Linked DNA regions of Homo sapiens. The protein of the gene in region 1 purifies or fractionates together with the protein of each later gene. This does not show direct contact. Each region holds a gene or a part of one and is shown on either strand. Other genes may lie near its edges.

Region 1 (5,122 bases):
GCTACTCGGGAGGCTGAGGCACGAGAATCGTTTGAACCCGGGAAGCAGAGGTTGCAGTGAGCCGAGATGGCGCCATTGCACTGTAGCCTGGGCAACAAGCGCAAAACTCCGTCTCAAAGAAAGAAGAAAACAAAAAAAAAGATATATATGCTATTATTACTATTGTTTTTAGGCTGGAAGAGGTCCCGATACCTGGAAGAAAAGTTTGTACTCGGTTATTATTATCTGTCTGAAAGAGGTCCTGAAAGCTGGAGCAAACATCCATATTCTATTATTATTATTATTATTGTGATTGTTTGACTGAAAGAAGTCCCAGTGCCTGGGGCCAAGGTTTATATTCTATTATCATTGCTGTTATTATTATTTGGCTGAAACAGGTCCTGGTACCTGTAGCAAAGGCTTATATTATTACATTATTATTATTATTAGGCTGGAAGAGGTCTCGACACCTGGAACAAAAATTTTCATTCTATCATTATTATTATTATTAGGCTGAAAGAGGTTCTAGAACCTGGAGCAAAGGTTTTTATTCTATTATTATTACTTTTGTTATTAGGCTGAAAGAGGTCCCAGTAACAGAACAAAAGTTTATATTCTATTTTATTACTATTTGGCTGAGAAAGGTGCCAGGACCTGTAGTAAAGGTTTATATTCTATGATTATTATTAGGCTGAAAGAAGTCCGGGTACCTGGAACAAAAGTTTATATTTTATTATTATTATTTAGCTGAAAAAGGTTCTGGCACTTCAGTCAAAGGTTTATGTTCTATTATTATCATTATTATTATTATTTGGCTCACAGGTGTCCCAGTACCTGGACCAAAGGTCTGTTTTCTATTAATACTATTCTTATTATTACTATTTGGCTGAAAAAAGGTTCTGGTACCTAGAGCCAAGTTTTATATTCCACTATTATTATTTGGTTGAAAGAGGTCCCAGTACCTAGAAGAAAAGTTTATATTCTATTATCATTATAATTATTATTACTGTCATTATTGTTGGTCTGAAAGAGGTCCTGGTACTGTGAACAAAGGTTTATATTCTATTATTATTCTTATTTGGCTGAAAGAGCTCCCAGGACCTGGAGCAAAGGTTTATATTCTATCATTATTATCATTATTACTACTGTTATTATTATTACTGGGCTGAAAGAGGTCACAGTACCCTGAACAAAGGTTTATATTCTATTGTCATTATTATTATTATTGTTATTATTTGGCTGAAAGACGTTCCAGGAGATGAAGCAAAGGTTTATATTCTATCATTATTATCATTATTACTATTATTATTATTATTACTGGGCTGAAAGAAGTCACAGTACCCTGAACAAAGGTTTATATTCTATTATCATTAATATTATTATTATTATTTGGCTGAAAGACGTTCCAGGACGTGAAGCAAAGGTTTATATTTTATCATTATTATCATTATTCCTATTGTTGTTATTATTATTGGGCTGAAAGACGCCCCAGTACCATGAACAAAGGTTTATATTCTATTATTATTAATATTATTGTTATTATTTAGGTGAACAAAGGTTTCTATTCTATTATGATGATCATCATTTGGCTGAAACAGGTCTAGTACCTGGAGTGAAGTTTTGTACTAAGAGCCAAAATTCCCAAACCCCTAACCAAGTGACTCCTGGAAGGAGAAACAAGAAGCTCCCTCCCACGTCTCCTGCTGTCAGAATTCCATGGGATTCCCAGGTAAAGAACCGTCCACACAGTAGGTGGGTTCCACCTGAACCCACGTAACAGCCACAGCAGAGCTGACCTTCTGCAGTGAGTACCCTCCTTCCTCCTTCCTCCTCCCTTGCAGCGCTTCCGAGCACACAAGGCCACGAATAAAGGTTGCTGTAAACCAGCCTCTCACTGCCTCATTCTTCAAGACTGGTGCAGCATCCCCAGTGCGGGGGGAGGGGGGTTTGGGGGGGACACTCCCCAAAACGCTCTCAGGGGGCCGGCGATTTCACGTTTCCAATTGCACATCCATGAGAGGCCAGTGGATGTGCCTCACATGACTCTTACCAGAACGACACGTCGCAAGAGACCAGTGTGAAGAAGCAGAGGAAGGAGCCAGCCGCCATCCGTCCCTTTATGGATGAGACTGACAAAACCCTAAAACTCAGCCACTCTTCTCCCTAGGTTTTTGTTATTTTGGAAATGACAATCATTTTTCTTTTAAAAAACATACAGCACATGGCCAAAGGGTACCAAGTTTCTGTTCGACAGGAGGAATCCGTTTCAGTGACCTACTGCACAGCGTGGTGGCGATAGTTAATAGTGTATTACATATTTCAAAATAGCTAAAAGAGGTTTTTATTTTTGTTTTTGTTTTTTTGTTTTTTTGGTTTTTTTGAGACGGAGTCTCGCCCTGTTGCCCAGGCTTGAGTGCAGTGGCGCAATCTTGGCTGACTGCAACCTCCACCTCCCAGGTTCACACCATTCTCCTGCCTCAGCCTCCCAAGTAGCTGGGACTACAGGCGCACACTGCCACACCCAGCTAATTTTTTGTATTTTAGTAGAGATGGGGTTCCACTGTATTGCCCAGACTGGTCTCAAACTCCTGAGCTCAGGCAATCCACCCGCCTCAGCCTCCCAAAGTGCTGGGATTATAGGCATGAGCCACCGCACCCGGCCCGCCAATAGAGATTTTAAATGTCTTGCGTGCAGTGTATACTGCTTGGGTGATGGGTGCACCAGAATCTCACAAATCACCACTAAAAAACTTACTCATGGAATCAAACACCACCTGTTCCCCAATAACCTATGGAAATAAAAAACAAAAATAGCTAAAAGAGATTTTAAATGTTCCCACCGCAAAGGAAAAATAGCGGGTGATAGATATTAGTTTAATTATTCCACAATGCAAACATACAGCAAAGCATCACACTGTGCCCCATAAGTGTACACATTTATATATTTATATAAAAATATCAATTGTTTTTATTTACATCTAAATTATATAAATATAACTTATTTGTATTTTATATTTATAGAAAAGTATAAATTATTCTAAAAATATATATATTTAATAAAAATAAAATATAAAAACAATAAATATATTACATACATTTTTGTATGTAACATGTAATTGGCCTGTTACCATTACTTTTAAATAGATTGTTAAATATGTTTTAAATTTCTGTTTTAATGTCTAACAGGATGACTTATTGACTGTTATAATCCACAAAAACAAAAACTGTCTGGGGTCCTCATTTTTTTTGAAAGAGATTCTATGATCAAGGAATTGGAGGCCGGGGGCAGGGGCTCACCCCTGTAATCCCAGCAATTTGGGATGCCAAGGTGGACTATCACCTGAGGTCAGGAGTTTGAGACCAGCCTGACCAACATGGAGAAACCCCATCTCACTAAAAATACAAAATGAGCCAGGCATGGTGGCACATGCCTGTAATCCCAGCTACTCGGGAGGCTGAGGCAGGAGAATCGCTTGAACCCGGGAGGCAGAGGTTGTGGTGAGCTGAGATCACGCCATTGCACTCCAGCCTGGGAAACAAAAGCGAAACTTGGTCTCAAGAAAAAGAAGAAGAAGTTGGAAAACTGCTGTTTTTACTTCTACCTGATTTCTAATAGCCACTGTTCACTACTCATAAAACCAACAAGAATTAACTTTCCCTTTACAGGTTAAAAAAAAAATAGTTTGAAAAGTAGGACTTCTATAAATAGCTTTGTAAGTGGGCCAGTTGGCATATTTTTTGTAAATACTCACTCCTGTGGTACAGCATTTACGAATCCATTTTGCATCCCAGAAAGTGAAGGAATATTCTGTGGCCTATTATTTACAATAGAACTTTTAAGAAAAATTCTGTGGCAGTATTGGAACTGGACTTGACTACAGGTACCATCAATTTTCTCTCCTTTGCAAAACTCATTGATGTATCAGAGAAAATGTAATTTCTAAACAGATCACCCTGTTATTAATACCGGTGGGTAGAGACTTTCTTTACTCAATATGATCATTTTCAACAGATTTCAGGCCATATCAATGTTCAAGTTTTGATGCCATATTAGGATATTAAATGCACTGATTAAATCATCTATTTTAAAATCCAACCAACAGATACAACTTACTGAATGGGCCGCATGGATATAGTCTTAAGAACACAGAGACAGACCCTCTTATGGGAATTCTCAATTTGCTTCTAAACCCCCTCTGTAAAGGCATGACCAACATCTATGATTAATTTGTAATTATCTTGTTTTTCCATGATGAACTGTAAGAAGACACCATTTAGGAGTGGATTCCAGCCACAATTTCTTCCTTCTCATACCATGTAAGTCAACTCATGTGGAAGGTGTAACCCAGGCATTTCCTTTGTACGATACCTAAGAAGAACACGCTCCATTTGGAAGTTCTAAGAAAAAACTGCCCTTGCTTCCAATCTGCAGTGGGGAAATTGGCCCTCTTGGTTATTCAAACAGCTTAGCTCAAATGCCCTGGACAAAGTTCAATGTTTCCTCACCAACAGCGAAGGCCTACCAGAGAGAAGCAAATAAAAAATGCCGTTTAGGAAGCTGGCCACCAGCAGACCAAGGACAACAGCATTCCTCCACTGGTATCGAAAATTATTTTTAATCCATACATAGGAAGGGGCTCGATGAGGGCAAGCCACTTAAGTTAATCTTTAGAGAAGGCCATTCTGTTTCGATACACACCCGGGTACAGATTCCCTTGGCAGACACGTGACTTCACCAGAAGCTCGTCCTCTTTAACAACCTTCTGTTGTTGTTTAATCAGTAAATGGGAAAAAAAAAAAAAAAAAAGATTCCAGCCCTTTTTCTAATGCACAAAGAGCAAGTTTTTCAAAGGCCAGCATTTTGGTGAGCTGCTGCAGGAACCCCGGCCTCTTCTGCCAGGGCCCACACAGGCCCTTAAGGAGGTTTAAGGGGACCTTTCTGTAAGCAAAACTGCCCGGATAAACATAATCTTCTGCGAGACTCCACACAATTGTTCAGCAGCTGTAAACCGTTCACCTTGCAACTGATTACTTACTTCAAACAAACATGCTCTCCTGCCCTCCGAAAGCCTGACTACAGTTCCCTTTACTCTCCTTCTTCTATGCATTTGTAATTATGCTAAGTGGGTTTAAAAAAAAATAC
Region 2 (5,122 bases), on another chromosome or scaffold:
TTTAGGAAGACCTGCAAGTGACCAGCCCACACTCATCTGAGAATCACCTCTCAGTCTCTCTGCCTGTATGGATAGACTTCAGCTGCAGGTCCCTCACACTGGGATCTCCACCATGAGGAGTGGGGAGGAGCCGATCTTGGCTCAAGTCATTCATTCCCAGCCTCCCACCTCCAGCGCTAAGAGCTGCCCCTGCCAACTACCAACACCACACAACTCTGAAAAATCATCAGGGTACCACCCTGGGGCCAGGCTGTGGGACTATGTTGGGGGAGATGGCCCAGGTCCAATGAGACCCCAAGAGAAGCTTTGCTCGTCCTGTGTCCCAGCTCTCTGGCTATTTCAGAGCAACCATCAGTCCTTTTGGAGAGTCCCCAATGGGAAGGAGACAGTTGGGTGATTAAGTTGTGTTTGGGGGATGTCCAGAAGCCTCAGGCCTGATAACCCACAGGGTCCCAGAAATGCCAGGGCAGGCAGGGGCCTCAAAGCACAGGCCCAAGAGGGCTCCAAGAGTTTGCTGTTCACTGTGATCGGTCACTGAGGACCTGTCATACTGCTGGAACTACTTCCTCGCCTCTTAAAAATAAACTAGGAGGAGCCTCTCTGAGGTCATTAGTTATGGTGACTTCAGAAACAAATGACGACAAGGGCTATGATGACAAAACAATGGAATGTGTCACCTGTGCCCCTTTTTGCACGAGTGCATACACTCGCTTTGCTTCCTTCCCCTTCAAGGAAAACATCCTGCCCTGGTGGAGGGTGCAGAGCCCAGGGCCCACCTTTGCAGTGTCGGTGGAGCACGTCCAGGGCCGCGATGAGGAACTCGTGGGCGTCCTGCTGCTCGTAGCCTGCTAGGTGCCTCGCGTGGGTCCACACCAGGTGCAGCAACTTATACGGGATGTGAGGGGACCGGTGTCCAGAGTAAAACTGCCAGAGGGCGGGGAAGGAAACCTTGTCAGGAATAAATGTAGACTCTGAACACAGAGTACACACAATCAAAACCTTTATCAGATGCCTACCATTGGCTGTGGCTCATTTGACACAAATGTTTGGATTTTACTTTTCTACTTTTTGCAAAGTCTATTTTTATCTGGGCTCACTGGACTTTTCGAGTCCTCATATGAATTTTTTCCTTTCTACCATCTAGTTTTCCACATATAAGCCTAAAAAATGAATTATGACTTGCTACTATGAGATCACATGCAAATAAAAGTGACTCGATTTGCCCAATACTAGTTTCCTCAAAGCACTAGCCAAACCACTCAGGCCCATGGACACCAGCACCTCCGCAAAGGGAAGCACATCACTGTGATTATGCAGAATTCACCAGCATCAGCCACAGGATTCTCTGCCTCTGAGGCTAATGGCAATTAGCTGAGGGCTTGCCAGCCAGTCCTCTCCAACAGCTCAACTCCAGCCGCAGACCCAGCAGCACACCTTCCATCCCACGGCTTCCTCCCCAGGTCAGAACCCACAGAGGGGTCTTGCCTGTGCAAATACAGAATTCAGGGCAGTTTTATTTCTCATCAAAAAACCCAAAACCACAGACCACCCAAATGTGTCTGAACTGGGAAACAGACAACTAAACCATAACCCATCTACATAATGGAACCCAACTCAGACATCGAAAGCACACATCATGGATGCACGCAAGACACGGGTGAATCCACCCAGTATTACATTAAGTAGGGACAGCCAGATTCAGAAAGGCTACTTCCTGCATGCATCCATCCGTATGATGCGCTGGTAAAGGACACTCAAGGGACCGAAGACAGATCGGCAGCTACCAGGGTCTGGGGACTGGGGGTTGACTTCGGAGGGGCACGAGGGAGTTCGGAGAGGTAACAGTTCTTCATCTTGAGTAGCAGCAGTTACACAACTATGCATTCGTCGAAACTCATCTATCTATAGGCTAGAAGGTGGGTGTGACTGTAATTTACACCTTAACAAGCCGGAGTCTAAAAACAATCTAACACAAGTGAGCTTATCACTAAAGTCAGTGATACAACCACCCACCAACTTCCCAGCTGCACCCTCCTTTCTCCTATTTGGGCCGTGTCCCCAGCAGTTATGGCACATTGCAGGTACTTTGAGGAAATCGGTTAGGCTCGACCAGAGGCTGGCAATCTGTTTTTGAAAGGCTTGGACAGTAAATAATTTCAGCTTTGCAGGTTGGATAGCCTCTGTCCAACTGCTCAACTCTGTGGCTGTCCCACAAAAGCGACCAGTGACCAGACAGACATGAGTGAGCTGGCGTGGCTGCATCTCTCGCAGAGGTTACGAATGGGAACAGGCCAGGGCTGTTGGCTGGCTCCTGTGCAAGGCACCTGAAGAACAGGCACCAGCCTGCTTATTAGTTGAGGTAACTGAGCTGCTTCAGCTCTGAGAAGCATGTCTAGGTCACGGAGCCGGTGAGGGCTGAGGCGGCAGCCGTGAACGCCTTGCTCTGAACGCTGCCATGCTCTGATGCCGGGGACAGAAGTGGACAGGAACGCCACACGTGCAGCCCACAGGAACAGCCAACGTGCAGCGCGTAGCTCATGAGGACAGAGGCTCTGATGGGGCATGCTTAGAGAGACCTGGCGGTGGAGGAGACTCGCATACCAGGAGGACACAGGAGGGTGACACATGCGTGCCTTTCTGAGCCAGGAAGGTAGACCATGGAGGAAGAGGAAGGGGGAGAATCACCCGTCTTTAGAGACAAATGTCACCCACCAGGGAAGTCTCTGCCACAAGCCTCTCAAAGGGCTTCTCCTTGTTCTGAGTCAGCAGTGCGTCCCCAAAAATCACGCCAGGTCTTCCCTTTTTGGAAAACTGTGTTTTCCATAATAGACATGTATATTAAACATTAACTTACTACAAAAGGTTCTAAATGTATCTTCCTTTATCATGGTCCACCTTAAATTTTTTTTTTGAAGGTGAAAACAAAGTAACAGAAATGTTCCCCTGCAGAAGTCAATGGCGCTCACCTCCTGAAACAGTGAGGACATCTCACAGACCAGACAGGAGCTGGGGCTCTGCATCTCACAGCGGTGCCTGTCAGACAGGAAGAAGTCCCGCAGAAGTGGCGTGTGGGTCAGGGCCTGCACGATGCAGTTCATGAAGCATGTGTTCCCAAGGTTGATCAGCCCACGCAGACCTGGACACAAATCACCAGAGAGCAGGAGTTACCTGTGTGCTGAACCACAGGTGTCGCTGGATCCCAGCGGCTTCCTCTACCTCTACATACTCATTTTCTTTTATTCATTCATTCAAGCCAGAACACGATGAGATATCGCATTCTGCTAGTTTTTATGCCACTTTTACATGAACGGTATTGAAGAATGTCCACCACCATGGACCCCTCCCACTTCAGCCATTGTATGCTTTGACAGAATTACACAAATATAGTTTCTACGACAACAGGCCAGGTCAGAGTGAAGCCTAATGAACAAACAAAACAGGTTTTTAAAAATGTTCTAGGGCCAGGGCAGGGGCTCATACTTGTAACCCAGCACTCTGGGAAGCCAAGGCATGAGGATCACTGGAGCCCAGGAGTTCGAGACCAGCCTGGGCAACATGGTGAGATGTCTCTACGCAAAACACAAAAATTATCCAAACATGGTGGTGTGCACCTGCAATCCCAGCTACTTGGGAGGCTGAGGTGGAAGGATCGCTTGGGCCCAGGAGACAGAGGGTGCAGTGAACTGTGCTCCAGCCTGGGCAACAGAGCAAGACTCTGTCTCAAAAAAGAAAAAGAAAAAGTTTTAAAGGGTATTCCCTCAATTTGTAGAAAATTCAGCGAACACTTACACTCACACACATCATTTCTCTCCCTGAAGATTACTGTGCCCAGCCTCACCCTGGCCAAAATCAACTTGAGTCCCTTTACCCACACAGACGCTGAAGGCTGTGAGGGCAGGGCTGTTGCTACGCATCACTCTGCGCCCCAAGCCCACTGCAGGTCCCTGCAGAGAACAGGTGCTCAAGAGCTGGTTGCTGAGCACATTGATGAGTGACAGTTATGCAGGGCTTCAACAGAATCATGTGGACTTAAGAAACCCACAATTCTGTATTTACTTTTAAACCCTGGAAAGAAGCCTAGCTGAGAGTGACGACACGCTCCACCCACCTATGGTGCAGTTCGAGGTGATCTTTCTCCTTTTCGGGTTGTGCTTCAGCAGTTCAAGCTCCCGTTTGGTTGGTTCCCAAGTTGAAAACTTCTCTCCAACGCCTAAGCAGATGAAGGACAGTTCCAAGCGCTATTAGCTAGATTTTCACATCAAGTGTGTTTACACATAAAAGCTGTGGCGCTATGCTGTCTGTCAGGGTGCATTTCAGTGAGCAACATCCACAGCACCAGGGCTTTCTCAAACTCTACTGTGCTGAGAGGGGCTACACACAACACTTAAAGGAGCTTCTCACAGAGGGTATGAGGATGTGAGCTACGTTTCCTGCAAGAAAAGCAGCACCTCCAGTCAAAACTACCCCAACGCCAATGCCAAAACAGTTGTTTTTCAAATGTCTTCCATCCTTCAGCACAGAGATGGCAGCATCAGCACCAATGGGAACTTACATGAAGGATTCTCCCGCAAACAAGTGAAATTGAAGGAGAGAGCTTGCACTTTTCAGCAAACTGAAATAGCATAAACTCAGCGTCGAGTTACCAAACTAAGATAGATCCAACAGTTAAAAACGTGTGTGCCACAAAATATTCAGAGAGTGGTGGTAAATGCTAATTGGCATAGTATTCCATTCAACGCACACCCTATGCGCTCAGAAGTACTTGTTCCATGCCAACCAACATTTCTGAATACTTCAAAATACTTTAAAAGACACAGCATGTTGGATAGACAGAATTATAAAATGATTCTAGAAGAATTCCATTTTAATCCTGGACATACATTTCTTAGGCCCGTGCTTTAAGTGCTCTGCACAGAATAATACACCCACACTTAGTCACAATGTTATTAAATTTCTGAGAGGGAAAAGAACAGCGAACACAAGTCAGAGATTGCTCTCCAGAGAAGACTTGTTAAACACAAATAATTCTGCTCACTGAAAGAGCCCCTGTTGCTATTCTTCCCTTCTCAAAACACTGGGGTGTTTTCAATGGAGAGTAATCAAGGCAAGAATGTAAAACAGG

Evidence for each region. Proteins that work in one complex are often made in the same cells at the same time.
Region 2: the proteins of ZBED1 (region 1) and USP22 purify together in Homo sapiens (affinity purification with mass spectrometry; 2 studies listed by BioGRID and IntAct, with this or other methods). This does not show direct contact.

What each region holds. Positions count from the first base shown.
Region 1 is NC_000023.11:2,493,858-2,498,979, forward strand, and holds part of ZBED1 (E3 SUMO-protein ligase ZBED1), read right to left. Parts: intron 1-5,122.
Region 2 is NC_000017.11:21,014,976-21,020,097, forward strand, and holds part of USP22 (ubiquitin carboxyl-terminal hydrolase 22), read right to left. Parts: intron 4,211-5,122; coding exon 4,109-4,210; intron 3,137-4,108; coding exon 2,967-3,136; intron 925-2,966; coding exon 777-924; intron 1-776. UniProt on the Homo sapiens protein: Deubiquitinase that plays a role in several cellular processes including transcriptional regulation, cell cycle progression or innate immunity.